Homo sapiens: one gene and its partners. The protein of the gene in region 1 interacts with the protein of each later gene in a pairwise test. Each region holds a gene or a part of one and is shown on either strand. Other genes may lie near its edges. The genes, in order: CEP76, SPG21, TCEANC and CWF19L2.

Region 1 (7,029 bases):
ACAGCTAGACAGCTTGCTCTCAAGGAGTTTAGATTCTAGTGCAGGAGAAACAATAAGTCAGCAAACAAAATAATCAGATAGTAGAAGGTGTTTTATGGAGAATTATTACAGGTGATATGATACAGTGGTTATTGGGTGGCTAATTATAGGTCGAGTGACTAAGGTAGGGAAAGAGTCTGAACAACAGGAAGTAACCAGCCATGCAAAGATTGGGGCTGAGCTTCCAGCACTGGGAACAGCCTAGAACAAAAGCCCCTATGGAGGACCGAAAGCCCTGTGTGGCTAGAGCGTAGTGGGTTGGGGAGAGAGGAGAAAATGAGATAGTCGGGCCAGAGTTCATAGGCCAGGGCAGGTATTTTGCAATGTGATGGAGAATGAAGTGTTTTAACAAGAGAATGACAGTATGTTTTTTTTTTTTTTGAGATAGAGTCTCACTCTATCGCCCAGGGTGGAGCACGGTGGCATGAACTCGGCTCACTGCAACCTCTGCCTCCCGGGTTCAAGCAATTCTCCTGCCTCAGCCTCCCGAGTAGCTGGGATTACAGGCATGTACCACCATCCCCAGCTAGTTTTTGTATTTTTAGTTGAGATGGGGTTTCACCATGTTGGCCAGGCTGGTCTCGAACCCCTGACCTCAAATGATCCACCTGCCTTGGCCTCCCAAAATGTTGTGATTACAGGCGTGAGCCACCATGCCCGGCTTGTATGATTTACTATTTAAAAATTTCTGGGCCAGGCGCGGTAATCCCAGCACTTTGGGAGGCCAAGGCGGGCGGATCATGAGCTCAGGAGTTCAAGACTAGCTTGACCAATGTGGTGAAACCCTGTCTCTACTAAAAATACAAAAAAAAATTTAGCTGAGTGTGGTGGCACGTGCCTGTAGTCCCAGCTACTCAGGAGGCTGAGGCAGGAGAATTGCTTGAACATGGGAGGCAGAGGTTGCAGTGAGCTGAGATCTTGCCACTGCACTCCAGCCTGGGCGACAGAGCAAGACTGCATCCTCCACAACCAAAAAAAAAAAAAAAATTCTGTCTTTGAGGAAAAAAAGGTGACTTATGATTATTGTATGGAGATGGGATTGTACTAGGGGTAAGTGTAGAAATAGGGAAGTCAGGAGGCTCTTATAGAAGATGATGATGACTCAGATTAGGGTGGTAATGATGTAGAGAAGTAGATAAATTTGCTACATATTTTGTAGTAATTAAAGATAATGAATAGAAATTGAAAAATATTTTTTTCAATTTCAAGCTTGCTTTGGAACGTCAGAAAACTGCAGAGAAAGAGCGATTATTTCTTGTATATGCTAAGCAGTGGTGGAGAGAATATTTGCAAATTCGACCCTCACACAACTCACGACTGGTTAAGATTTTTGCACAGGTTTGTAAATTATATTAGAATAATTTTATGCCTGTATTTGAGATTTACTGTTATGTGTGTAAATTTCATTTAATATTTATTTGTAAAATGTATTCCAAAAAATAAAAGTGTATTTGTAAAATAAAATGCTGATTTTGTAATATTCTCTTTCACTGCATAGTGAGTGGCAAGATCAATCTATGTCTTATTTTACTTTCAATTTCAGTTATTGTGGGTTTTTGAAAAATCACCTTTCTCAGGTTGAATCAATTATTGTGTTTTAAACCCTTTCTGAATATATTTGATTTAAAGTAGATGAAAATCCATTTTGTTTAACTTGGAATGTGTATTTGCTTGATACTTAGTGCTAAATAATTAACCATTTGGACACTTTGCAGGTTATATGTAAATCCAGCTCTTGTGTGCAGAACGGGGGGGGGCTCTGGGCATATATATATTTTTTGTTAGGGTTTTAAAAAAAATTGTATATAACCACGACTTCTAAGCCAGTGACCAGTAATGTTTAACTGAAGCATTTCAACTATATATCTCTGCCTCCATTTTTCCTGAGTCCTAAACCCATTTTCTCTCTTTAACAGACCAATATAAAATATATGGTCAGGTCAGCTAGGCGCGGTGGCTCACGCCTGTAATCCCAGCACTTGGGGAGGCCGAGGTGGGTGGATCAAGAGGTCAGGAGATCGAGACCATCCTGGCTAACACGGTGAAACCCCGTTTCTACTAAAAACACAAAAAATTAGCCGGGCGTGATGGCGGGCTCCTATAGTCGCAGCTACTCGGGAGGCTGAGGCAGGAGAATGGCGTGAACCCGGGAGGCGGAGCTTGCAGTGAGCCGAGATCGCACCACTGCAGTCCGGCCTGGGCAACACAGCAAGACTCCGTCTCAAAAAAAAAAACAACAAAAAATGTGGTCAGGTTCACGTATTTTTTGTAACTCCTAAGGAACAGTTCAAATATTTTGTATATATTCAGCCTCATACAGATGCTTTCATATAAGTATAGTGTAGTATATTATTTTAAGTTAAGTTTCTCAAATCCTGTACATTCATCCAGCTTTACCCTACTTTCCCTAGATTTTGGAACAGGCTAAAAGTGGTTTAGTGTCCAGATGGGGAGCTTGGGAATGAGAGGTTGACTAGAGGTGGGAATAAGGGAAATGGCTTCTGACTTTCTGATAGCGTTGTTTATATATTGAATGACTGGTTGGCAAGGTAACAACATTATCAGGACAAAGGCAAGGAGAAACCAATCAAAATGTAACTGGCTTCCTGGCCGGGCGCGGTGGCTCACGCCTGTAATCCCAGCACTTGGGGAGGCCGAGGCAGGTGGATCCTCTGAGGTCAGGGGTTTGAGACCAGCCTGGCCAACATGGCGAAACCTTGTCTCTACTAAAAATACAAAAATTAGCCAGGCTTGGTGGCAGGCACCTATAATCCCAGTTAGTCAGGAGGCTGAGGCAGGAGAATTGCTTAACCCGGGAGGCGGAGGTTGCAGTGAGCGAAGATCACGCCATTGCACTCCAGCCTGGGCAACAGAGTGAGACTCTGTCTCAAAACAATAACAACGACAAAAAATATACATATATATATATATAAACTGGCTCCCTGCTGTCTATATAGTCTGAGGCATTTATTCATTGCCACGTGGAATTAGGAACTAGAGAGGACTCAGGATGGAGTGAGGCAGTGAATCAGAGAAATGGCAGGATCAAAGAGGAGGAAGAAGTTGAAATGCACTAAGGAAGTCAAGGAAGTGGGATTTTCTTTTAGGAAATATTACTTAAACGACTTCCTCTCTCAGAATTCATTTTAAGATTTGAACCATAGAACGTAATTTAGTCTCATAGTAACCATATAAGATTGTCAAGTGGCCAGGCATTGGCTCTTTTTGTAAACAGTATGAAGGTTAGAGAAGTGAACAGTCTTTTCAAGGCCAAACAGCAACTCAGTCATGGCAAAGTCTGTGTCAAATTGGAGTTTCAACTGGTGCCTTTTTGGTTTATGCCACCTCTTTCCATATACATAGAGTAAATAAAATGCTGATTTAATTTAGATTCCTCAGAACTGTTTCTTGCTGCTTCCTGTATTTGACTAGTTCTGAAATTAAACAACAACAGTGTAAAACAGTCAATCTAATTATAAAAACAATAGTTATAAATCAAAACGTTAATATACATATCCAGGCCAAAAAAATTTCTAATGTATCCAGCACTGAAAGTAAAGTAAAGAACTTTTTTTTGTTGTTGTTGTGAGACAGAGTCTCAGTCACCCAGGGTTGAGTGCAGTGGTGCGATCTTGGCTCACTGCAACCTCCACCTCCCAGATTCAAGTGATTCTCCTGCCTCAGCCTCCCAAGTAGCTGGGACTACAGGCACGTGCCACCATGCCTGGCTAATTTTTTGTGTTTTTAGTAGAGATGGGGTTTCACTGTGTTAGCCAGGATGGTCTCGATCTCCTGACCTCATGACCCGCCCGCCTCGGCCTCCCAAAGTGCTGGGATCATAGGCGTGAGCCACCACACCTGGCCAAGAACTTTTTGCAATGATGGAAATGTTCTGTATCTGTGCTAACCAGTATGGTAGCCACCAGCCATGTACTGAGCATTCAAAATGTGGCTATTATGACTAAAAATAATTGAATTTTAAATTTTAATTAAAATTTAAATAGCTCATAATGGTTAGTGATTTTCTCACTGGACAGTGCCCATTCAGAGGTTGAAATATTAACTTTTCAAAACAGTTAAGTAGCTTGTGGGGATATATTTAGATAATATTAGAATATTGCTGTAATAAAATGATATATCTTACATTCTAAGATGCTACTATTGATGATTGACTTAGGCAAATGCTTCCACTTCTTATGTGCTCATCTTTTCTTGCCTGTTAGTGGATTTGTAAGAATAGGAGTAACAGTCCTGCACCTCAATACTAACCAAAGATCTGTAGATTTGCCGTGGCCATTATACTTAAAAATTCATTATTCTTTTTACCCTTTGTTAGCTGGTTTTGCTATAGTATAGTAGTAATTCATTGAATGATGCTTTTTGAACTTTTTAGTGCAAGAAACTTTAAAATAAGTTACAGAAATTGAACTTTAAGGCCACTAGGTTTTGTTTTTTTTTTTTTTTTTTTGAGATGGAGTCTCGCTCTCGCCCAGGCTGGAGTGCAGTGGCACGATCTCGGCTCACTGCAAGCTCCGCCTCCCAGATTCATGCCATTCTCCTGCCTCAGCCTCCTAAGTTGCTGGGACCACATGCCTGGCTAATTTTTTTTGTATTTTTAGTGGAGATGGGGTTTCACCATGTTAGCCAGGATGGAATTGATCTCCTGACCTCGTGATCCACCCACCTTGGCCTCCCAAAGTGCTGGGATTACAGGCGTGAGCCACCGTGCCCAGCCTAAGGCCATTAGGTTTTAAGAAAATGTTGTAAATCACTTGAGGATTGAGGATATTCTTTTAATATTTAGTTTGTGATTTCAGGACTTAGTATTCTTATACCACACTAGATTATTAGTAATGCTAAGTTCATGTAAAAGAAAACCATAGTTCTCTACATCCCCCCAAAATTAGAATAATAATCCTCTGTTTTAAAAATCGGTGCCCTCTAGGCCAGGCACAGTGGCTCACACCTGTAATACCAGCACTTTGGGAGGTCGAGGTGGGCGGATCACTTGAGGTCAGGAGTTTGAGACCAAGCCTGGTCAACATCGTGAAACCCCATCTCTACAAAAATACAAAAATTAGCCAGGTGTGGTGGCACATACCTGTAATCCCAGCTACTCAGGAGGCCGAGGCACAAGAATCGCTTGAACCCATGGGCGGAGGTTGCAGCGAGCCGAAATCACACTACTGCACTCCAGCCTGGACAACAGCGAGACTCTGTCTCAAAAAAAAAAAAAAAAAAATTGATGCCTTCTATAGTTGAGAACTATAGGTATGAGTGGAATCTATAGCCAAGTTGCTCTGCAACATAAAAATTAATGATCTTTCTCATTATAATCAAATGTAAATAAGTGAGTTTTTTTTTCCTTGCTAAAGTATGGGACTATATTGGAAAAAGATGTTCTGGTTGTGGAGAAAGACATCAGTGGTTCTGATAATTCAAACAGATGGTGTTTCTTTTGGCTGGGTTAGATCTCATGTCCTGAGGAACCCTATCAGGGAGGGTAGGTCATCTCCAAATCTTGAATAGTAAGTGGCCCTTTCACAGTGCCGTATCAGTAACCATGAAGGTAAAGAGATTGTGGACTTTGGTAATACTCACTGTAAAATCACAGTGGTAGACAGTCATCAGAGACCTATATATGCATACAAGTTATTCAGCACCAACACCAGGAGATATCCTGTATTTAGGATGTAAAACTTTTTCTAGAGTGTTTTTTGAAATTTTGCTTTCAATTGACTTGGTTAACAAATTATTGTTTCCTGTGGATCTCTAAATTTGAGGCCCTAATGGAAACAAACTAGAATCAAGCTACAATCATTTCTGTTATATCAGCCAATCAGAAGAGTTATTTGTTCTGTCTGGCTATATGTTGTTAAATTCTATATGGTAATGTGAAAAAATACTTCAGCTTAGAGCACCTCTCCCTCCCCTACATACCTACCCACACATTTCTCAGAGGAGTTCTTATTGCCACAGCCTTTGGAGTAAAACAGCTCAGAGCTTGAACCTGGCTCTGTTGCATAATAGCTGTAGCTCCTCAGTTTTCATCTATAAAATGAAAATAACGGAGATGAGGATTAAGGGAAATTATATACACAGCACTTTGCAGCCAAATACTGGATACAAGGTAAGCACTCGATCAATGGTATGCTGAATTATTTTATCCTACATTAATGTATTTGAAAAAAACATAATTGGGGATGATTAATATGTCATTACAGATGTTTTTCCCCTTTTCCCTAGGATGAAAATGGGATAAATAGACCAGTCTGTTCCTATGTTAAACCACTTCGAGCTGGACGGCTTCTTGATACTCCAAGGCAAGCAGCAAGATTTGTTAATGTCCTTGGTTATGAACGAGCCCCTGTTATTGGAGGAGGAGGTAAACAGGAGCAGTGGTGCACTCTGCTGGCCTTTCTCTGTAGAAACAAGGTATTATACACACATAATAGAATTAAGTAGCAGTATATCATAGTTACTCTGAATTTGTAATCCATTTGTAAAAGAATGCCTTAGAAAAATGCACATATAGTCAACCCTCTGTACCCACAGGTTCTGTATCTGTAGATTCAACCAACTGCAGATCAAAAATACTTACAAAAGTAAAAAATTACAATAATAAAAAATAGTACAAATTAAAAAATGGTGTGTAACAACGTTTATGTAGCATTTACATTGTATTGAGATTTTTAAACAATTTAGAGGTGATTTAAAGTATATAGGAGGATGTGCTTAGGTTATATATAAAATACTATACCATTTTGGCTGGCCGCAGTGGCTCATGCCTGTATCCCAGCATTTTGGGAGGCTGAGGCAGGTGGATCACCTGAGGTCAGGAGTTCAAGACCAGTCTGGGCAACATGGTGAAACCCTATCTCTACTAAAATACAAAAAATTATCTGGGCATGGTGTCGTGTGCCTGTAATCCCAGCTACTCAGGAGGCTGAGGCAGGAGAATCACTTGGACCCTGGAGGCGGAGGTTGCAG
Region 2 (7,029 bases), on another chromosome or scaffold:
CTCTGGGAGAAAGGTGTGTGGGAAAGGCACTCTTCCTGGTGACTGATTTTTTTTTTTTTTTTTTTTTTTGCATGCTTCCACATTGGTCAGGACATTGGTCTCCTAATTTTCCAGGAAGGAGAGAGTCTCTTTAGCTGGCAGTCGCCTGCAGTATTCACTTGTAAGTGGTACTCCCAGTGGGAGTACTGCTGTTAGTGTACGTTTTATTTACTGTTTAAAGGGATGAAAAGGCAGGTCACGTCTCTCCTTTTGGAAGGTAACTGAAAATTCTACTGAGGTTACCACCAACTGAGGCCACACAAAGGAAATCAGTTCCTCTTCCTCCTGAGAGCCCGTCTCTTACTTGAGAAAACAGTTATCATCACTACCTGCTGCTTTTCTCCTGGGTCTTTTCTTCTCTGGCTTAATTTCTCCAGCTTCTTTAACCATTCCTCACGTGACATGTTTGAGCCTCTGCAACATAATCCTCCTTTGTTCAGATTTTCAGTCATTCCTCTTCACAAACAGCATTCTAGAACAGGGTGGGAACTGCCCTCATCCCAGCCCTCTGCAGCCTGAGACATGACACTACCATTTTTGGTGGCCCCTGTTGATCAGCCAGGGAGGGGGAAACCGAGCAACCCATAGGCGCCCGTCCCACTCGGGAGTGCTGTCCAGCAGTGTGTTTCTCGCTCCACAGTGGCAGGTCATGAGAGCCTTGGCTTCTGGCTGGATGTTTCTTCTTCACTCTCAAGGTTCTTGTTGTGCGCTTTCCCTGTTTCATTAGGAGGAGAGTTAATCAAGAAAAGGTCAACAGTGTCTTCAAAATTATTTTGTCATCAAGATGTGATCAGAATGTTCAGCTCCATGAGGTTTTGGAACTTATTTAATATTTGTTAGTATCTAGCAGTTAAAATGCACAGATCTTTTTAATTTAAATTTTTTTGTTGTTGTAATTGTAGATTCACATGCAGTGTAAAAAATAGTAAAGAGAAATATACCTTTTACACATTTCCCCAGTTTCTGCCGAACCTTTGCAAAACTGTAGTACAAAATCACAACCAGGATATTGATATTACTACAATCTACCAATCTCATTCAGGCTTCCCCAGTTCTGCTTGAACTCATTTGTTTGTATGTATTAAGTTGCATATAATTTTGTCACCTGTGTGGGCATGGATATTTATAAATTAAAGACTCCATGAAAGTATCATCCCCTTTCTTTTAGGCTATCATCTGACTCAAATTCTCAAACTTTCTGCTAGGTAGAATCAGTTCCCCATTCTTTCTTGGAATGGTGGAAGTCTTATCCACAAATAGAATTTTAATAATGAAAGTCATACATCAAATCTAAAATGATTCCATAATTCATATGGCAGTATCCATTCCAGTGATTCATCAATAACAAAATGAACCTAAGTGCTTAAACAGTAAGCCTGTTAGACGAGGTTTTTGGGGGAGTTTTTTTGTTTTTGTTTTTGTTTTTTGGAGATGGAGTCTCACTCTGTCACTCAGGCTAGAGTGCAGTAGTATGATCTCGGCTCATGCAACCTCCACCTCTCAGGCTCAAGCAATTCTCATGCCTCAGCTTCCCCAGTAGCTGGGATTACAGGTGCCTGTCACCATGCCTGGCTAATTTTTGTATTTTTTAGTAGAGATGGGGTTTCACCATGTTGTCCAGGCTGGTCTCGAACTCCTGACCTCAAGTGATTCACCCGCCTCGGCCTCCCAAAGCGCTGGGATTGCAAGCGTGAGCCACCACGCCCAGCCAGTTGGTTTTATATGTATATAAAAAAGGAATTCTTGGCCAGGCGCGGTGGCTCACGCCTGTAATCCCAGCACTTTGGGAGGCCGAGGCAGGCGGATCACAAGATCAGGAGATCGAGACCATCCTGGCTAACATGGTGAAACCCCGTCTCTACTAAAAATACAACAACAACAAAAAATTAGTCGGGTGTGGTGGCACATGCCTGTAGTCCCAGCTACTCAGGAGACTGAGGCAGGAGAATCGCTTGAACCTGGGAGGTGGAGGTTGCAGTGAGCCGAGATCGCGCCACTGCACTCCAGCCTGGGCGACAGAGCGAGACCCCAGTTCAAACAAACAAAAAAAAGGAATTCTTAGGGGACAAACCTGAGTCCCTTAGAAATGAGTTTGTGACTTGTACTTCTTTTTCCTCATCATTGCCAGCATTAATAGATAGGCTACGTATAGTCAAGTACCATACTTCTTTTGTCACAAACAGAAGTACAGTAGCCTGGCATGGTGGCTCACACCCGTAATCCCAGCACTTTGGGAAGTTAAGGCAGTTATATTGCTTGAGGCAGGCAAATCGCTTGAGCCCAGGAGTTCAAGACCAGCCTGGGCAACGTGGCAAAACCCCATTTCTACAAAAAAGTATACATATAAAAATTAGCCAGGCATGGTGGTGCATGCCTGTGATTCCAGCTACCGGGGGGCTGAGGTGGGAGAATCGCTTGCACCCAAGAGGTTGTGGCTGCAGTGAGCTACAATCGTGCCAATGCACTCCAGCCTGGGTGAGAGAGAGTGAGACCCTATCACAAAAACAAACAAGCTGGGTGGAGTGACTCACGCCTAAAATTCCAACACTTTGGGAGGCCAAGGCAGTTAGATCACTTGAGGTCAGGAGTTCGAGACTAGCCTGGCCAACATGGCAAAACTGTGTCTGTACTAAAAATACAAAAATCAGCTGGGTGTGGTGGTGGACATCTGTAATCTCAGCTACTCAGGAGGCTGAGGTAGGAGAATCGTTCAAACCCGGGAGGCGGAGGTGGCATGAGTCGAGATCGCGCCGCTGCACTCCAGCCTGGGCAACAGAGGAGACTCTGTCTCAAGAAACAAACAGACACCCCAAAGTACAATAAATGAAATAGAGTAACTAAGTCATTTAAAAGAAGAGGAACAATTTTACTGAATACCCTCTTAAAGAAATGCTACCAAAAAGAGAGGAAGCTCTCCTTAGAACAAATTTTGTTTCCATCTCTCCTGAGCCATAATTCTGAATGAAATTAGATTTAAGAGAAAACGGTATTTCTTTACTGGAATGGGTTCTGCTGTATTCATCCTTGAACCCCAGACTTTTTCAGCTATTTAGAAAGGAAATTGATGGGAATTGAAATTGTTACTCACGTAATATCATTAGAGTGTGCTTACTTTTTATACTCTTTTAATTTGGTCTGTTAGAAAAATGTGAAATATGAAGTTTAGTAAAAAGTGAGAGCTTATTTTTACATATTTTGAATAAGGAGCAGCGCTTGAGCAAACGAGAAATGTCAGTGTTTGAGTCCTAAGTTTTTCAAATACGTGAGTTGCATTTTTACTTTTATGATTTTTAAAAATAAAATTATCGTTATTATTTCAGTTGCAGTATCCAGTTTATTGGGACCATCTCGAGTTCTGTGATGGATTCAGAAAACTTTTAGACCATTTACAATTGGATAAAGTGAGTACCCTGAAACTAATTACATACATACAATTTTTTTTTTATTTTTTGAGATGAAGTCTCACTCTGTCACCCAGGCTGGAGTGCAGTGGCGCGATCTCGGCTCACCGCAACCTCCACCTCCCGGATTCAAGTGATTCTCCTGCCTCAGTCTCCAAAATAGCTGGGATTACAGGCGTGTGCCACCATGCCCGGCTAGTTTTTGTATTTTTAGTAAAGATGGGGTTTCGCCAGGTTGGCCAGGCTGCTCTCAAACTCCTGACCTCAAGTGATCCGCCCGCCTCAGCCTCCCTAAGTGCTGGGATTACAGGCGTGAGCCACCGTGCCGAGCCCTCTTTTATTTTTTAATAATAGCTTTATTGCAACATAATTCATATACCATATAATTTACCCTTTTAAGTATACAGTTCCATGTTTTTCAGTATACTCCCAGGTATGTGCAACCATCACTGCAGTCAATGTTTTATAATTTTTTTAATGCCAAAAACCTCATATTCATTAGCAGTCGGTCCTCATCTTCCCCCCTACTAGCCCTGCAACCTAATTTATTTTTATCTCTATGGATTTGCCTATTCTAGATATTTTACATAAGTGGAATCGTATCATATGTGGTCTTTTTGACTGGCTTTTTTTATTTAGCATTGTGAGTTTAAGGTTCATTCATGTTGAAGCCGGAATCAATACTTCGTTTCTCTTTACAGTTAAATCATATTTTTATAAATATGCCATATCTTGTTTAACGATTCATCAGCTGATGCACATTTGGGTTGTTTTTACCCTTTGGATATCATGAATAATGCTGCCATGAACATTCATGTACAAGTTTTTGTGTTGACATATGTTTTCAGTTCTCTTAGGTATGTGTTTAGGGGTGGAATTACTGAATCACAGTTTTCTTAGACATAAACCACTAAGTGGTTTTGAGTTTTTTCTTTTTTTTTTTTTTTGAGACAGGCTTTCACTTTGTTGCCCAGGCTGGAGTGCGGTGGTGCAATCATGGCTCACTGCAGCCTCAACCTTTTGGGCTCAAGCGATCCTCCCACCTCAACCTCCCAAGTAGCTAGGACTCTAGGCACGTACCACCATGCCTGGCTAATTTTTGTATTTTTAGTATACAGGCCTTTTCCATATTTCCCTAGCTTGGTTTTGTTGGTTTCTTTTTTTCTTTTCTTTTTTTTTTTTTTTTTAAGACGGAGTCTCGCTCTGTTGCCCAGGCTGGAGTGCAGTGGTGCGATCTTGGCTCACTGCAACCTCCGCCTGCCAGGTTCAAGCGATTCTGCTGCCTCAGCCTCCCGAGTAGCTGGGACTACAGGCACGCACCACCATGCCTGGCTAGTTTTTTTGTATTTTTAGTAGAGACGGTTTCACCATGCTGGCTAGGCTGGTCTCGAACTCCTGACCTCGTGATCTGCCTGCCTCGGCCTCCCAAAGTGCTGGGATTACAGGTGTGAGCCACCGTGCCTGGACTGGTTTTGTTTTCTAATGCAATCTGTGAATGATATTTTTTTTAATTATATAACTTGGATGCCAAGTTGTATTATCTTGATGGACTGTATAAATTGCATTTAAATACAATATTTTCTAAATTTCTAGCTGCTGTAAATATTTTAGTCTATTGGCTAGTGATAACATATTCTGTGGTTAGTGATAATTGAAGCAACTTTTTAATACTCAGGTTCAAGATTGATCAGTATTTCAGAATCTGCCTTATATTTGTTTATAATTAGGTTCATCTTTTTGGCGCTTCTTTGGGAGGCTTTTTGGCCCAGAAATTTGCTGAATACACTCACAAATCTCCTAGAGTCCATTCCCTAATCCTCTGCAATTCCTTCAGTGACACCTCTATCTTCAACCAAACTTGGACTGCAAACAGGTAAGAACAAAATTACTTTTTTTGTTCAGTGAAATTTTGAAAATGTTGGCTTTTGAGTGTTTGGTACATTAGGAAGGGAAGACTTATATCTACTTCTATATTCTGCAACTTCCTTGGCTTTTTTTTTGAGACAGAGTCTTGCTCTGTCACCCAGGCTGAAGTGCAGTGGTGCAATCACAGCTTACTGCAGCCTTTATTTCCCAGGCTCAAGCGATCCTCCTACCTCAGCCTCCCAAGTAGCTGGAACTACAGGCAGGCATGCATGGCACCACACCTGGTTAATTTCTGTATATTTTTGTACAGATGAGGTTTTGCCATGTTGTCCCATGCTGGTCTCTAACTCCCGGGCTCAAGCCATCTGCCCACCTTGGCCTCCCAAAGTTCTGGGATTACAGGCATGAGCCACTGTGCCCGGCTCTTTCTTGGCTTTTAAAATTAGAAACAATTACCTTTGCAAAAGGAAAGAATTGAATGAACTCTAAATTCAGCTTTTTTTATTACCTTAAATTTTTAAATTTTGTTTAATATTCATTAATATACTTTTGCTGTTTTTATTCAGTATTTCTATGTAACTAATACCATGTTCTGTTTATCCCACTTATTATTATGTGTAAACAGTTCCGTGTATTGACTGACATAGTTTTATTAGGCATTTGGCTTTTCCCAATTCTTCATCACATTCTACAGTAAATCTTTGTACAAATTACTGGGTTTTTTCCCTTTCCAATTTATTTCCTTGAGATATGTTCTCCAAATGGAAAGAATAGAGCATTTGGTCTGTCAACAGATGTTCTGCACATCATGACCCTTGATATTAGTCTGTTCTTCCAAAAGATAGAAATGGTGGAAATGAGGCTGGGTGCGGTGGCTCACACCTGTAATCCCAGCACTTTGGGAGGCCGAGGCGGCCGGATCACCTGAGGTCGGGAGTTCGAGACCAGCCTGACCAACGTGGAGAAACCCTGTCTACTAAAAATACAAAATTAGCTGGGCAAGGTGGCACATGCCTATAATCCCAGCTACTCAGGAGGCTGAGGCAGGAGAATCACTTGAACCCAGGATGCGGAGGTTGTGGTGAGCCGAGATCACGCCATTGCACTCCAGCCTAGGCAACAGGAGCGAAACTCCATCTCAAAAAAAAAACAAACCAAAAACAAAATGGTGGAAATGCTTTGGGTGCAGCCAGTGGGGTACTTGTTTCCTAGGAGCCATCCTTTCATTGATTTTATCATTTTAAGTAATTGGTAGGTATCTATGATGCCATACAGCTGGCTTACTGTGCACTTCTTTCATTGCTGGCAAGGCGAGGCTCTAGCCTTAAAATAAAGCCCAGTGGCCAGGTGTGATGGCTCATGCCGTACTCCCAACACTTTGGGAGGCCAAGACAGGAGGATCACTTCAGGCCAAGAGTTTGAAACCAGCCTGAGCAACATAGTGAGACCCCATCTCTACAAATAACAATAATAATAAATTAGCCAGGTATCATGGTATGCACCTGCAGTCCTAGCTACTCAGGAGGCTGAGGCAGGAGGATCGCTTGAGCCCAAGAGTTCAAGGCTGCAGTGAGCCACAACTGTGCCTCTGTACTCCAGGCTGGGTGACAGAGCAAGACCCTACTTCAAAAAAAAAGCCCAGTGAGTAAACACATCTGTATGATCAGTGTTTTCAAATAATGTATAGGGAAATATCGTTTTCACATCTACTTAAAATTGCACT
Region 3 (7,029 bases), on another chromosome or scaffold:
GTAAAAACATGCTCTTCAATTTCTCTTGCAAAGTTTTGCCACAAATCAGCTTTGGGTTGATCTGTGGAAGAACTAGTTAAAGCTGCGTAAAGAAGCTCTATGCATTTAGTTCTCATGGGTGTTGTGGGATCCAGCAACTCACTCGATCTCTTGCCAGTGGATTCAGGGTCACCATCCCCAAAATGCTCTTCCTTAGGTTTCAATTGAATGGCTCTATTTTCAGGCACAATCATTTCACTGAGTTTTGCAACGTCTTGGGAAGACAGAGAATTCGAGCTGCAGATGCCCAGTGTCTCATTCTGACTTGGGTCATGAGAAGGTCCTGAATTTTCTTCTTTATTACCCCTCACAGGAAATAATTTAGGGCTGTTCCTCGCTTTGGAGTGAGTCTGCTTATAAACAGCTTTCCACTTTGATAGCAAACACTTGGCTTTCTTTTTCAAAGCCACAGAGGGGCAGTTTTTGAGGACTCTGTACACAGCTCTGACCACATCTGTCTCCTGGAGATGCTCCTTAGTCACATAAATTGTTTCTAGCTCAGTAAGGTGGTTGCCAAGATCCTCAAAATTCCTTTTGGACATCAGTTGCTCAATAAGAGAAGCTCTGGCAGCTATCTGGTTCTTGTCAGACATCTTTACAGCTGCAAAGAAAAAAGAGGTTTCAGTTTTCTTAAGTTTGCCGTTGCTAGTCGCAGCTTCTGGATACTAAAATAGCACTTTCTGTCAGTTACCTAGGCAATGTTTTCCGAAAGAGTCATGTAATACAAATGTATGCGACACGCTAGAAAATGGAATCTTTAAGGTGACGGTATGGTTTACTCTCAAGAGTTTAATTCCTACGAGTGAAAAACAAACAAACAGCATTGCAGAGCCTCTACATAACATCTGCTTAAGAGGCTTGCCGGAGGATCTGCTATAGCTTTTCCACCTCCAATTTTACAAATCAATGATCTTTCTAGATTAGTCAATCCATTTGGGCGGAATCCGGTGGTCATGTTGGAGGTGAAATCATGCCGGTGTCAGCATCAATATGGCAATGCTGAACAGTGCTAGACAATTTTTCCCCAGAGTCAGCTATATAACTGAACTACTTGCTCATTTCATAATCTTTAAAGTGGTACTCTTCTGAAAATAAAAGAGAAACAAGACAGAAAGGGTTTGCTAATGTCTCAAGCAATCTAAGGAAAATGTGAGACAGCACAGGTTGAAAAGCAGCTAGAGATACGTCTGCGGGTCCCAAAAGCCAACAGGCTACACTGTGCTGCCTTAGGAGTCTTCTGAACAAGGGAAAGGTTCAGACTCAATGATCCAGATGATTTATGACTTTAGACTAACTGGTTCTTACATTTTGGTTTTGTTAATTTTTAAAAAATTTTTAAGTGTAAAGAGTTGCTCAATGATTATGTCTGTGTGAATTTCATCCTAGGCAGGCAAATGTTTACTTTTATCTATGCAGTCTATTTTTTCCCTCCACATAATGTACATAATCTTGTCTATATAATACCCTTGGATCTATATTTATCTGTCTGGTCTAAATGTGAACATAAGCATCTTGATGGCAGGGACTGTGTCTTTTCAAAAATCCATGGGCTCTGTTTTATAGCACTTGATATTAAATAATCACCACCGAACATACACAGGCTAAGAACACTGAAGTGTTTAGAGAGAGAATTCACGCAGTCTTCCCAGACACCATATGACAAGTGACATAAAACATAATGACCTTTTAGTAATTCTACTTCCATAAATTTACTTTAAGGAAATGAGAGATGTGGAGACTGCATATGTAAGAATTTTCTTCTAAGGAGAAATTAGAAGGCCCTCAAATGGTTAAATGGAGAATGGTTAAAAATATGGCACACTCCTAGGATACAGTAATATAACCATTTAAAAATCATGTATTTAGATAATATTTAACGACATGGAAAAATGGTCATAAAGTTAGGTGAAAAACAATCAAGATGTAAAACTATATAAAAGACTAAACAGTTAACATATGGGCCGGGCATGGTGACTCACCCTGTAATCCCAGCACTTTGGGAGGCCGAGGCAGGCAGATCACGAGGTCAGGAGATCGAGACCATCCTGGCTAACATGGTGAAACCCCATCTCTACTAAAAATACAAAAAATTAGCCGGGTGTGGTGGCGGGCACCTGTAGTCCTAGCTACTTGGGAGGCTGAAGCAGGAGAATGGCATGAACCTGGAAGGCGGAGTTTGCAGTGAGCCAAGATCGTGCCACTGCACTCCAGCCTGGGCAACACAGCAAGACTCTGTCTAAAAAAAAATAATAATAAATAAATGAATAAACCAGTTATCATATGACCCAGCAGATCCAAGAGAAATGAAAACATATGTCCACACAAAAACTTGTATACAAATGTTCATAGCAGTATTATTCACAATAGCCAAAAATGGGAAATAATCGAAATGTCCATCAACTGATGAATGGATAAATAAAATGTGATTTATCCACACAACAGAATATTATTCTGCCATGAAAAGGAATGAAGTATTGATACAGTTACAACATGGATGAACCTTGAAAACATTATGCTGAGCAGAAGCAGCCAGACAGAAAAGTCCACATATTGTATGATTTTATTTACATGAAATGTCCAAAACAGGCAAATCTATAGAGACAGAAAATAGATCAGTTGTTGACTAGGTAGGGTAGGGCAGAAGGGCAGTGGGGTGAAGGAGGAGGAGCAGCTGATAAAGTTCAGGGATTTTCTTGGGAGGTGGTGGCACACATAAATCTTCTCAAGATTTATTTGTGGTGATGGGTTATACAACTGAGTATACTAAAAAACACTGAATTGTACACTTTAGGTGAACTGTATGGTGCGTGAATTACATCTGAATAAAGGTGTTATTTAAAAATAGAATTTGATCCAAATTTTATTTAAGAATTACATGTGAAAAGACTGAAAAGAGATACACAAAATTTTAAAGAGGGGCATTTTCTGAATGGTAAGATTTTAGGTAATTTTCATTTGTTATTTTCCTCTTCTGTATTTTCTGTGATGAGCATGTATTGCTTTCATAATCAGAAAAGTTATTGGTCTAACGCAATTTCATGATAAACTATATGCACTTAAGATATACCTACTGAAAAATGGTATGAGCAATGAATCAATCACCTTCTACCCACCTCCCCTCTGGAACGAGAATGTACATAACACTACTGAACTGTATACTTAAAAAGGCTTAAGACAGGCTGGGCGTGGTGGCTCACACCTGCAATCCCAGCACTTTGGGAGGCCAAGGTGGGTGGATCATGAGGTCAAGAGATCGAGTCTATCCTGGCCAACATGGTGAAACCTTGTCTCCACCAAAAATACAAAAAGTTAGCTGGATGTAGTGGCGCATACCTGTAGTCCCAGCTACTCGGAAGGCCGAGGCAGGAGAATTGCTTGAACCCGGGAGGCAGAGTTTGCGGTGAGCCGAGATCATGCCACTGCACTCCAACCTGGCGACAGAGCGAGACTCTGTCAAAAAAAAAAAAAAAAAAGGGCTTAACACAGTAAATTTTATGTTTTGTATATTTTATCACAATTAAAATTTTTTAAAGAAATATGAAGAAAAGGTCAATAAAAGAACATATAAAATGAAGAGCAAAGTGCTTTTTGGTTGTTTATACATAAATACATTAACTTCTATAGATTTACTCATTTTGCTGGTAAGACAAATTGCTGCTTTCACCCCACTGAAACCCCGAAGCTATAATTACAATTCCCTTTAAGAATTACCTTGAAACTCAGACCTTCAGTTGAGAAATTCTGACCTGAGTCAAATATTGCTTAACTTCCTTTTGGGCGCTGTAGGCCCATCTCTTATTCACCATCTTTCTCAATGCCTAGCAAACCTCCATCCTGATTTCAATAGTAATGCATATAGAATGCAGGCACATTGAATGTTTCTTCTTTGTTAGGAAACTTTTCAACGAGTCGGGGAGGGCTCAAGTATATTGAATAACTTGAAACTTTATCACTGTGACACAACTGCGTGACTTCAAGATCTGAAGCAGACAATTCTGAGAGAAATGTTCGCTAATAGAGGGTGTGAATATTTTTTATTTTTCTGTGCTGTCTTGCCTGTTGTTTATTAAGAGTTTGATTCTTAGGAAGACCTCTTTTACTGTATGCAGTCTTTAAAAGTGGAATTTTAAAAAGGCAAAAAAGAATTATCTTTTAAGTGCTGGTTCACAATAATTAGGAAAATTACATAAGATCCTGAATTGATGGCCCTTTGTGAAACTAACTTTAAAACAAAACAAAACTGACTGCCCCAGGTTTTCTACATTCCAGCTCCCTCTGGTGGTTAAAAATGTAGGACTCAGACTCTTGGTTATGTAAGGGTACTTAACTCTTCATATTTGGGGATAAAGTTTGAGGGGAGATGCACCTGTTTGAGATGCAGTAATCGATTTCTGAGGCAATTATGAATACTTATCTGAATGCAAAGCCACAGGTGATATAGCCACTCTTAAGAGACGATATTCACATTTCAGAGGGAAGGTGGGTAGAAGGTGATTGATTCATTTCTCACCATACCATTTTTCAGTATCTTAAATGTATACAGTTTATCATGAAATTATATTAGACCAATAACTTTTCTGATTATGAAAACAATGCATGCTCATCACAGAAAATACAGAAAAGAGTAAAAGAACAAATGAAAATTACCTAAAATCTCACCATTCAGAAAATGCCCCTCTTTAAAATTTTGCGTATCTCTTCAGTCTTTCCATATGTAATTCTTAAGTAAAATTTGGACCAGATTCTATTTTTAAATAACACCTTTATTCAGATGTAATTCACATACCATACAATTCCCCTAAAGTGTATAATTCAGTGGCTTTTAGTATATTCACAGTTGTGTAACCCATCACCACAAATAAATCAACTTTAGAAGATTTATCTGTGCCACCACCCCCCAAGAAAATCCCTGCACTTTAGCAGCCACTCCTCTTTCTTCACTCCACTGCCCTTCTGTCCCACCCCACCAAGTCAACAACTAATCTTTTTTCTGTCTGTATAGATTTGCTGTCTGGACATTTCATGTGAATAAAATCATACAGTATGTGGTCTTTTGTATCTGGCTTCTTCTATTCAGCATAACGTTTTCAAGGTTCATCCATGTTGTAGCATTTTCAGTACTTCATTCCTTTTCATGGCAGAATAATATTATGTTGTGTGGATAAACCACATTTTATTTATCCATTCATCAGTTGATGGACATTTTGATTATTTCCCATTTTTGGCTATTATGAATAATACTGCTATGAACATTTGTGTACAAGTGTGTGTGTGTTTTTTTTTTTTTTTTTTTTGAGATGGAGTCTCGCTCTGTCACCCATGCTGGAGTGCAGTGGTGCAATCTTGGCTCACTGCAATCTACACCTCCTGGGTTCAAGTGATTCTCGTGCCTCAGACTCCTGAGTAGCTAGGATTACAGGCATGTGCCACCACGCCCGGCTACTTTTTGTATTTTTAGTAGAGACAGGGTTTCATCATGTTGGCCAGCCTGGTCTCGAACTCCTGACCTCAGGTGATCCACCTGCCTTGGCCTCCCAAAGTGCTGGGATTACAGGCATGTGCCACCACACCCGGCCTGTGTACAAGTTTTTGCATGGACATATGTTTTCATTTATCTTGAATCTGCTGGATTATATAACTGTTTAATCTTTCATATAGTTTTGCATCTTGATTTTTTTTCACTTAGCTTTAGGACTATTTTTCCACATCATTAAATATTCTCTAAAAACACGATTTTTAAATGGTTATGTTATTGGATCATCCTAGGAGTTTGCGATAGTTTTTAATCATTCTCCTATTTGGGGCCTTCCAGTTTCTCCTAAGTTTGAAGAAAATGCGTACATATGCGGTCTCCACATCTCTCGTTTCCTTAAAGTGAATTCACAGAAGTAGAATTACTAAAAGGTAAATATGTTTTATGTCACTTGTCATATGGTGTCTGGGAAGATTGTGTGAATTCTCTCTCTAAACACTTCAGTGTTCTTAGCCTGTGTATGTTCGGTGGTGATTATTTAATATCAAGTGCTATAAAACAGAGCCCATGGATTTTTGAAAAGACACAGTCCCTGCCATCAAGATGCTTATGTCCAGCACTCTTTTCATCCTCCCAAACTGAAAACTCTGCACCCATTAAACAACTCCTCATTCTTCCCTCCCTCCAGCCCCTGGCAATCACCACTCGACTTTCTGTCTCTATGGATGAGACTACTCTAGGTACTTCATGTGAGTGGAATCATACAGTATTTCTCTTTTTGTGACTGGCTTATTTCACTTAGCATAATGTCCTCAAGGTTCATCCATGTTGTAGCATGTGTCAGAACTTTCTTCCTTTTTAAGAATGAATAATATTCCATTGTCTATACATAACACATTTTGTTTATCCATTCAAATGTCAACGGATACTTGAGTTGCTTCTGGCTTTTGGCCATTGTGAATAACACTGCTGTGAGCACTGGTATACCAATCTCTCTTTGAGACCCTGCTTTCAATTCTTCAGAGTATATACTCAAAAATGGAATTGCTGGATCATATGGTAATTCTATTTTTAATTTTTTGAGGACCCACTGTATTGTTTTCCATTCCCTTCCACATTTTTAACAGGATTTAAATCCAGTCAAACTTTCTAGTCCTCTGTGGGACCATCATGTGGATATAAAGGATTTATTGCCCTAGGAGGGTATAATGTGGAAGCCATTGAAATACAAAATTCTGACAATTGCCATAAAAAGACAAGGTAAGGCATATGTCCAGCTTAGTTCTACATAGTTCATTCAATAAATATATATTAGGGATTGAGTATGTGCTAGATGCTGAGCCTAAAGAGACAGTCTCTGCCTTGAAGGAGCTGATAGCCTAGTGGGAGTAATACTGACAAGAAACTGGCCAGTTACAACACATGTGGAATTTCAACATGGACAGACACTGGCTGCTAGGGGAAACACACGCAGGATGGCACCAAACCCTATCTGGGCTCGCCATCATCTGGACAGC
Region 4 (7,029 bases), on another chromosome or scaffold:
TATATATTACACATTTTCAAATACACTAAAAAATTTGGAAAGACACTACCAACACTGTTAACCTGGCAAATAGGATTAGGGTTGGAAGTGACATGAAAGGGAGATTTACTTTTTCATTTTATACTCACCTATGCTTCATATTCTTGTTTTATACTCTTCTGTCTATATTGTTTAAATTTTATACATATACATTTATTAAGATTACAAATGGCATGTTCTAAAAAATAATACTGGTGTAAATAACAAGAAAGGTAAAGATATATGAACAATACATACAAAGAAGTAAAAACTAATTCAACTAATTTTTCCAATCATGACCATTCACTTATAAGACAAAGATTATTTGTAACAACTAGGCATTCTTCAAGGTCCTGTCTTGGTCTCCTACTTTACAACCACTCTACATTCTCAGGAATCTTTTTTTTTGGATGATTCCTAGATTTTTCTTTCCCTCTCCAGCCAGTCACAGAATTCATAGAAAGCCTCAAACCCTCTGTACCATCAAATTAACACAGCGAACAAAGAATACTGTCTTCAAAGGAAAAATTACATGTATACATACATATATATACACACATATATAGCTTTTAGTGAGTGCTGTCTTCAAACCGAAAAATTATATACATACACAGCTTTTAGTGAGTGCCTGTATTATAGTGTATCTATCAGAAGCTTACAACTTAAATAAGACATACAAATATGCAGCAATCAGACAACCGGTTGGAATACTAATCGTGTGGTATTACTTTGCAGACATTTTGCTTAGCTACAGTCACAGAAGAAGGCCTACAGATCATCCAAATGCTAACCCAATCCTAATGATATCAGGAAATAAGAGCCTCATTCCCCTAGTGACTGGGAACTGGAAATAGTCTACCACCCAGGGCACCTGGAGTGAAGACTGGACAATTACATATGCATACAGCCTTAGACAATAATCCCTGCCATGTTTGTTTAGTCAATACAATTGGATTTCTCCTTCCACTTCCTGGGAGGAAAGCCCTGATGTGAACCAGAGTCCATTTGACTGGGGCTTAATCACTCAGTTCAGATTTTGCCAGCTCCCTCCCACCGAAAATTACACACTGAGTTTTATAATCCACTGCTTCAGATGGAGTCATTAACAAAAGTGATTTATCAGACTCACAACCCCAAACCACAGTGCTTTTATCTACTACAACCATGTGTTTCTATTATTTCCTAAAACCTCTTCCTTTAGTGTCCCACTCATTTGGTGCTATTTTTAAACATATTTTAATGATCATTCACGTGTAAGTTGTTACCCTTTGGACACTTTTTTTTCTGGCTATCTCCAACAGGGCCAGCAAATTTCTAAAGCAAATTTTCTTAGGTTTAGTCCCATTCAACCTGGGTTTCCTCATCTTCTAACCCAGCCCTACATAAATGCAACATATATTTTATATTTAAAACTCTAATATTATCTTTAAAATCTGTCAATTGCCCAAAGTGGATTATTTCTTTCTTTGTGCAAAATAACAACCATAATTCATGCTCCCCTCTGCAAGATCTCTGGCATGTATTTGTCACTTTATATTTGGGCCGTGGCAGCGTGTTTTCCTTTTGTCTCCTAGACTTCCTATAGACATGCAGTATTTATGATTATGATTATACTCAACAATAAGATAATTTCCTTAGAAAGTAATGGCATTGGTAACAAAATCTACCAAAATATCTCCTGCAGCACATACATTTAAAACATTAACTCATTCAGTTTTTTAAATTGCAAAGCAGCAACATATTTTGAACAAATATAGCTACTGCTTTCAGCTCTTAAAAAAAAAAAAACCTATGAAATAAAATGCAATCCATACCACAATACTGCCTGTTAAATCTGCATATCTTACCCCTTCTATCAATTTTAAGAAATGTGAGATCATAGTCACAGCTAATAACTGATGTTCTAAAAATACAGTTCTGTTCTTTGAACTCTCTGGATCTTAACTTATTAGGTTAAAAAATGATAAAATACCCAGCAAATGTAGACTTTGTATCCCGTAGATGTTCTTTTTTTGGAGGGTCATCTCTCAAGACTTCATCTTGTGATTTTTCTCTTGGGTCTTCTGGAACATGTTGGTGTTCATCAGTACTGGTTTCCGATGGCTTTTGATTTGAATGTTTCTTGTCTCCTCTCCCATCAGAGCGACTCCATGATGTTAATCTTTCTTCACTGTTCTTGGTGGGTTTTCTAAAACCACTACACAAAGAGCCCTGAGCTACCAATGCTGAAGATGAACTAAGTGGTTCAAATTTTCTGCCCTTGCTGTGAAATGACAGTTCTTCATCATCAGAGGGTCTCAAGAATTTAGCTCTCAAATTGCCAAAAGAAAACTCTTGATTTTGCCTTGGGTTAGATTCTCTTCTACACGTTTCTAAAGACCCAGGTCTCTTATCTTTTTCATCACCAATAAATTTTTCATTATTGCTATTTTTTGCAGTATCTGTTGTAGCATATCTATCCCTTGAACTGTTACCATATTTTACTAAGTCTGATTCTCTACTTTCTTGACAATTTTGTGCTTTATCTGAATATGTGGGTTTCCTCCACCGTTCCCGTCTATAATCTTCTTTCGTGGATGCAGCTTTTTCAGCATCTTCTAATTTTGACTGAAATATTTCCATTGACTACAAAGGAGAAAAATTAAACAAGATATCTAAAATTAGGAACGGCTCAGTGACTTGCACCCCACATGTCACTGTATGACTCACTGCCAAGTGGCACACTGAAAAGCCCACTAACGGGGTGAAAGAAGACCCATACAATCATCCTATACGGAAACGAATACTTTCTAAAAATGTGTAAACAATTAAAAATTATTAAATAACAAAAAGATTCCAAAAGGATAGCCAGTTACACCAAACACTCTGCACTAACACAAAGTATAACACAGAAAACAGTAGAGACAAACTTTGCAAAAAATACTTAATTCCTACTGGTTGTGAGATTCAAGAGGTTAAATTGCTAAAACAGATTCTCACCAAAAAAAAAAAAAAAAACAGAATAGTTCAAGAACAAGAAAGACTTGGAAATAAAAAATTGTGTGTCCCAAAAAGCTGCCAAGATACACCAAAAGGAAGAAAAGACAGTGCTGAAAACTAAATTAACCTGGGAATTCTCTATATTTTAGGAAAAGGTAGTAAATAAATGTAAGTTATAAGAAAAAAAGATACATGAACAATTGATTCTAGAAAATCTAATATGCATTTATTAGTACTTCCAGAAAGATGGAGCAAAGATGATGGGAATAGAGCATTAATTTTAAAAATATATAAGAAAATTTCCCCAGCCGATTTCTCAGAAGGACTCATCCAATAGCCTTGGGTGGGGGAGAAAGAAGAAAAACACAGAAAAAAACCCTAATACCTGAATCTCAAAACTCAAGGAAAAAAAAAAAAACCTTTACAAGGACTAGATCAGGGAAGGAGTGAATAAGTGTGAGCCTGTATATGGATAGGGGTAGATAAATAACAAATTATCCACAAAGGAAAGACAGACTTACAGCTGTTCATCCATAATAATAAGTAAATAATAGAATGAAGATTAAATTTTGAAAACAAAATTAAGCTATAATTCTATATAGAGAATTCAATTCACAGTCAAATTATCCTTCCTTGGTATGGGCCAAAGAAAATCATTTTCAAAAATGCAGGGAATCAGAGGGCATATCACTAGCAATTCTGAGGGAAAAAAATTACTCAAGATGATTAAGACACACCATCAATGAATTCGGGCAAAGATCTCTGAAAAAAAGAACAGATGCTAAAAACCAAATGTCAAATGCAATGGTCAAGTCTAAATAACTGTTCTTGTAGTTGCAAACTTTAAAACAATTTTCAAGGAAAAGATGCATCATACATAGAAACAGAAAGTAGGAAGGTGGTTACTGGAAGGAGAGGGGATGAGAAGATGGAGGTCAAAGAGTCAGAAGTTTCCATTATGTAAGATAACTAAGCCTGGAGATACGATGTACAGTATGAGGACTACAGTTAATAATATCACATTATATACTGAAAATTTGCTAAGAGAGTAGATTTTAGGTATTTTTACCACAAAAAAAAAAGGAGAATAACTACGTAAGATAAATGATACACTAGTTTGCTTAACTCTAGTAATTATTTCCCCATGCATATCAAAACGTCATGGAATACATACCTTAAACATATACAACATAAAAAATAAAAAAATAAAATTAAAAAAAAACAAAAAAGTACCTTTTACTCAACTTTGAATATAAGGATACTTAAACATGATACTCTTAATCTTAAATGCAAAAGTCATTATTTTGTCTTTAGACAAAAAGGCAATACCAGCTTCCAATCCTGTTATCAAAGTTCTAAAATTATAACTATTTCAAGAAGAAAAGAAAGTTTAAGTATTAACAGAGAGGAAAAAAACAAAATAATTATTTGCATATAACTACCTTTCCACATAACCCAAAATTTTTAAAATTAGGATAATAAAAGTTTAAAGAATTGGCCGACCAGCACCAACACCAAGTCAGAAAACATTTTTAAAATTCAATTTATAATATAAAAAAATAAAAATAACCTCAATGGCATATGCATAATAACTGCACAGAGAAAAATACTGAAGAGCATAAATAAATAGTGTTTTGGGATGGGATGACTCTATATTATAAAGATACTAGTTGTCCTTAATTTATCTATACATTTAGTTAAATTTAAATAAAAACTCCAAAAAGAGTCGTAAATTTATAACAAATTTTGGAAAAATATTTATTTCTATTGAGCTTAAACTAAATTTACTAAGAAAACTAAACACATAAGAAAGCAAAGCTAATTTTTTTGGTGACTAACAAGAGATTTATCACATAGTGACTACCACATAGTAGGTGTTTATTATTTGCTATCTGCATAATTTACTGAAAACCACAATAATTAGAAAAGTATGATACAAATTCCAGGAAAAGATAGAAAAATCAATGAAACAGATCCGAGAGTAAAGGAACAGACCCATGTATATGAGAAAATTTAATGTATAACAAATGTGTCATTTCAAATTAGTGAGAAAAAATAATTCATTCAATATATAGCAAACAACTATATAAGACTTATGCAAAGTTTGATGCCTATTTCATACCATGCACAAATATATATTCCAGAAAAATTAAAGATAAAACATAAAAAATAAAACTGAACAAGCACTCAAGTAAGTACAGCTGCATATTTTTACGATTGTGGGGTGGGGAAGGCCTGTCAATAAATTATACCAAGAGCACTAATTCATGAAAAAATAATATGAGGGATTTTGATAGGTAAAAATATTTAAAACTTATCCATAGCAAATTATCAACGAAGTAAAAAACATCAAGCCGAGGGGGAGAAATCTGAACAGATTTATTAAAAAGTCTTAAATTATTATCCCAAAAGAAAAATGGAAAACAATATCAATAGTCAATTCACTAAAAAATACAAATGGTCAAAATAAATGTAAAAAAATTCCAATTCGGCTGGGCGCAGTGGCTCACGCCTGTAATCCCAGCACTGTGGGAGGCCAAGGTGGGCAGATCACGAGGTCAGGAGTTCAAGACCAGCCTGACCAATATGGTGAAACCCTGTCTCTACTAAAAACTAAAAATACAAAAATTAGCCAGGCGTGGTGGTGTGCTCCTGCAGTCCCAGCTACTTGGGAGGCTGAGGCAAGAGAATCACTTGAACCGAGGAGGCAGAGGTTGCAGTGAGCTGAGATCGTGCCACCGCACTCCAGCCTGGGTGACAGAGCAAGACTCCACCTCAAAATAAAAATAAAATTCCAATTCACCAGTAAACAAATGTATAAAAACAAAAGCAAAACTTAAAAACTCTGCCAATCACAACAGCATGAACTATAAGAACTAATCTTACTGTTGAAAATTATGTGATAAAAGAGATATTTTTAAGTATGATTTGCTCATTCTTTCTGTAGAGAAATCTGGCAATATGTACCTTGCTTTAAATGTCTATATCCTTTAAACAGGCAATTTCACTTTTAGTAATTCACCAACAAGAAAAATATGCAAAATGCATTGGGCATAGACAGTCAGCACAGTGCTATCTAACAAGGGAAAGGAAAAGCATATAAATGGTCATCTACTGACCAATAAATAAAGGAAAAGCCTATAAATATATTAAAAAAATTAACAGGTCATTAAAATGTATATATTTACTGGCATCCAACTATGTGTACATTATTAAGTTTAAAAAGCCAGGGCATATTCTACGAGTCTACTTTAAAACTCTGGGGGAAAATATCTGGAAAAATATATTCCAGAAATCTTACTACTTTCTAAACCTGCTTTCCCCCGGCAATTGAAGAGAAAAAAAAGAATATCAGTAATTACTGCAATAGAAAGATTGTCCAGAACGATGGGGAAACTGGTTCTAAAATATATACTGTTGCACAGTTTCATTGTTTTAAGAGTATATATACACTCTTTTAAAAAAATCCGTAAAGTACCCAAACTCTAGAATATACCTAACTCTGGAATATAAAAAATTTCAACAGTGGTTACCTCCAGAAGTGTACCATGCAGACTTTCCGGCATTGTTTAAATTTTCTCACAATAAGAAAATTTTTTTTACATTAAACACACCCACATTTAAGTTTTATATACTTAAGCTTTACATTCATTATGTCAATAAAAATATGATACATGTTTAATAATAATGAAAAGCAGAAAATTACTTCAGTAGTATAAAGACATGAAATATTAATTCAATTCTTCATGGCACAAAACAAAGCTAAAGGCACTTAATTTTTCACCTAATTCTGAAAATAAGAGGCATCTCCTTAAAACAGATACTCACCCCATATCTTTCGGCTACAATGTCCTCAAAGTTTCTACTTTGTTTCTCAGCTTGTTCCTTCATTCTTAGATAAGATTTCCTTAGCCAGCTTAATCCACCATCTTCTACCACTGAAACTAAATTCCAGTATTAAATATTAGTTATACTTTTAATGTGGTTATCATACAATTAATATGTATTGCTTCTATGACTTCTAAAATATAA

What was found.
Region 2: the proteins of CEP76 (region 1) and SPG21 interact in binary tests that used the Homo sapiens proteins (3 or more experiments, as listed by UniProt).
Region 3: the proteins of CEP76 (region 1) and TCEANC interact in binary tests that used the Homo sapiens proteins (3 or more experiments, as listed by UniProt).
Region 4: the proteins of CEP76 (region 1) and CWF19L2 interact in binary tests that used the Homo sapiens proteins (3 or more experiments, as listed by UniProt).

The regions. Positions count from the first base shown.
Region 1 is NC_000018.10:12,685,707-12,692,735, reverse strand, and holds part of CEP76 (centrosomal protein of 76 kDa), read left to right. Parts: intron 1-1,248; coding exon 1,249-1,377; intron 1,378-6,285; coding exon 6,286-6,474; intron 6,475-7,029. UniProt on the Homo sapiens protein: Centrosomal protein involved in regulation of centriole duplication. Required to limit centriole duplication to once per cell cycle by preventing centriole reduplication.
Region 2 is NC_000015.10:64,972,886-64,979,914, reverse strand, and holds part of SPG21 (maspardin), read left to right. Parts: intron 1-3,359; coding exon 3,360-3,440; intron 3,441-5,167; coding exon 5,168-5,313; intron 5,314-7,029. UniProt on the Homo sapiens protein: May play a role as a negative regulatory factor in CD4-dependent T-cell activation.
Region 3 is NC_000023.11:13,656,112-13,663,140, reverse strand, and holds part of TCEANC (transcription elongation factor A N-terminal and central domain-containing protein), read right to left. Parts: intron 3,490-7,029; 5' UTR 3,455-3,489; coding exon of another isoform or gene 3,373-3,454; intron 2,111-3,372; 5' UTR 2,019-2,110; intron 641-2,018; coding exon of another isoform or gene 633-640; coding exon 1-632.
Region 4 is NC_000011.10:107,426,809-107,433,837, forward strand, and holds part of CWF19L2 (CWF19-like protein 2), read right to left. Parts: intron 6,942-7,029; coding exon 6,826-6,941; intron 2,644-6,825; coding exon 1,991-2,643; intron 1-1,990.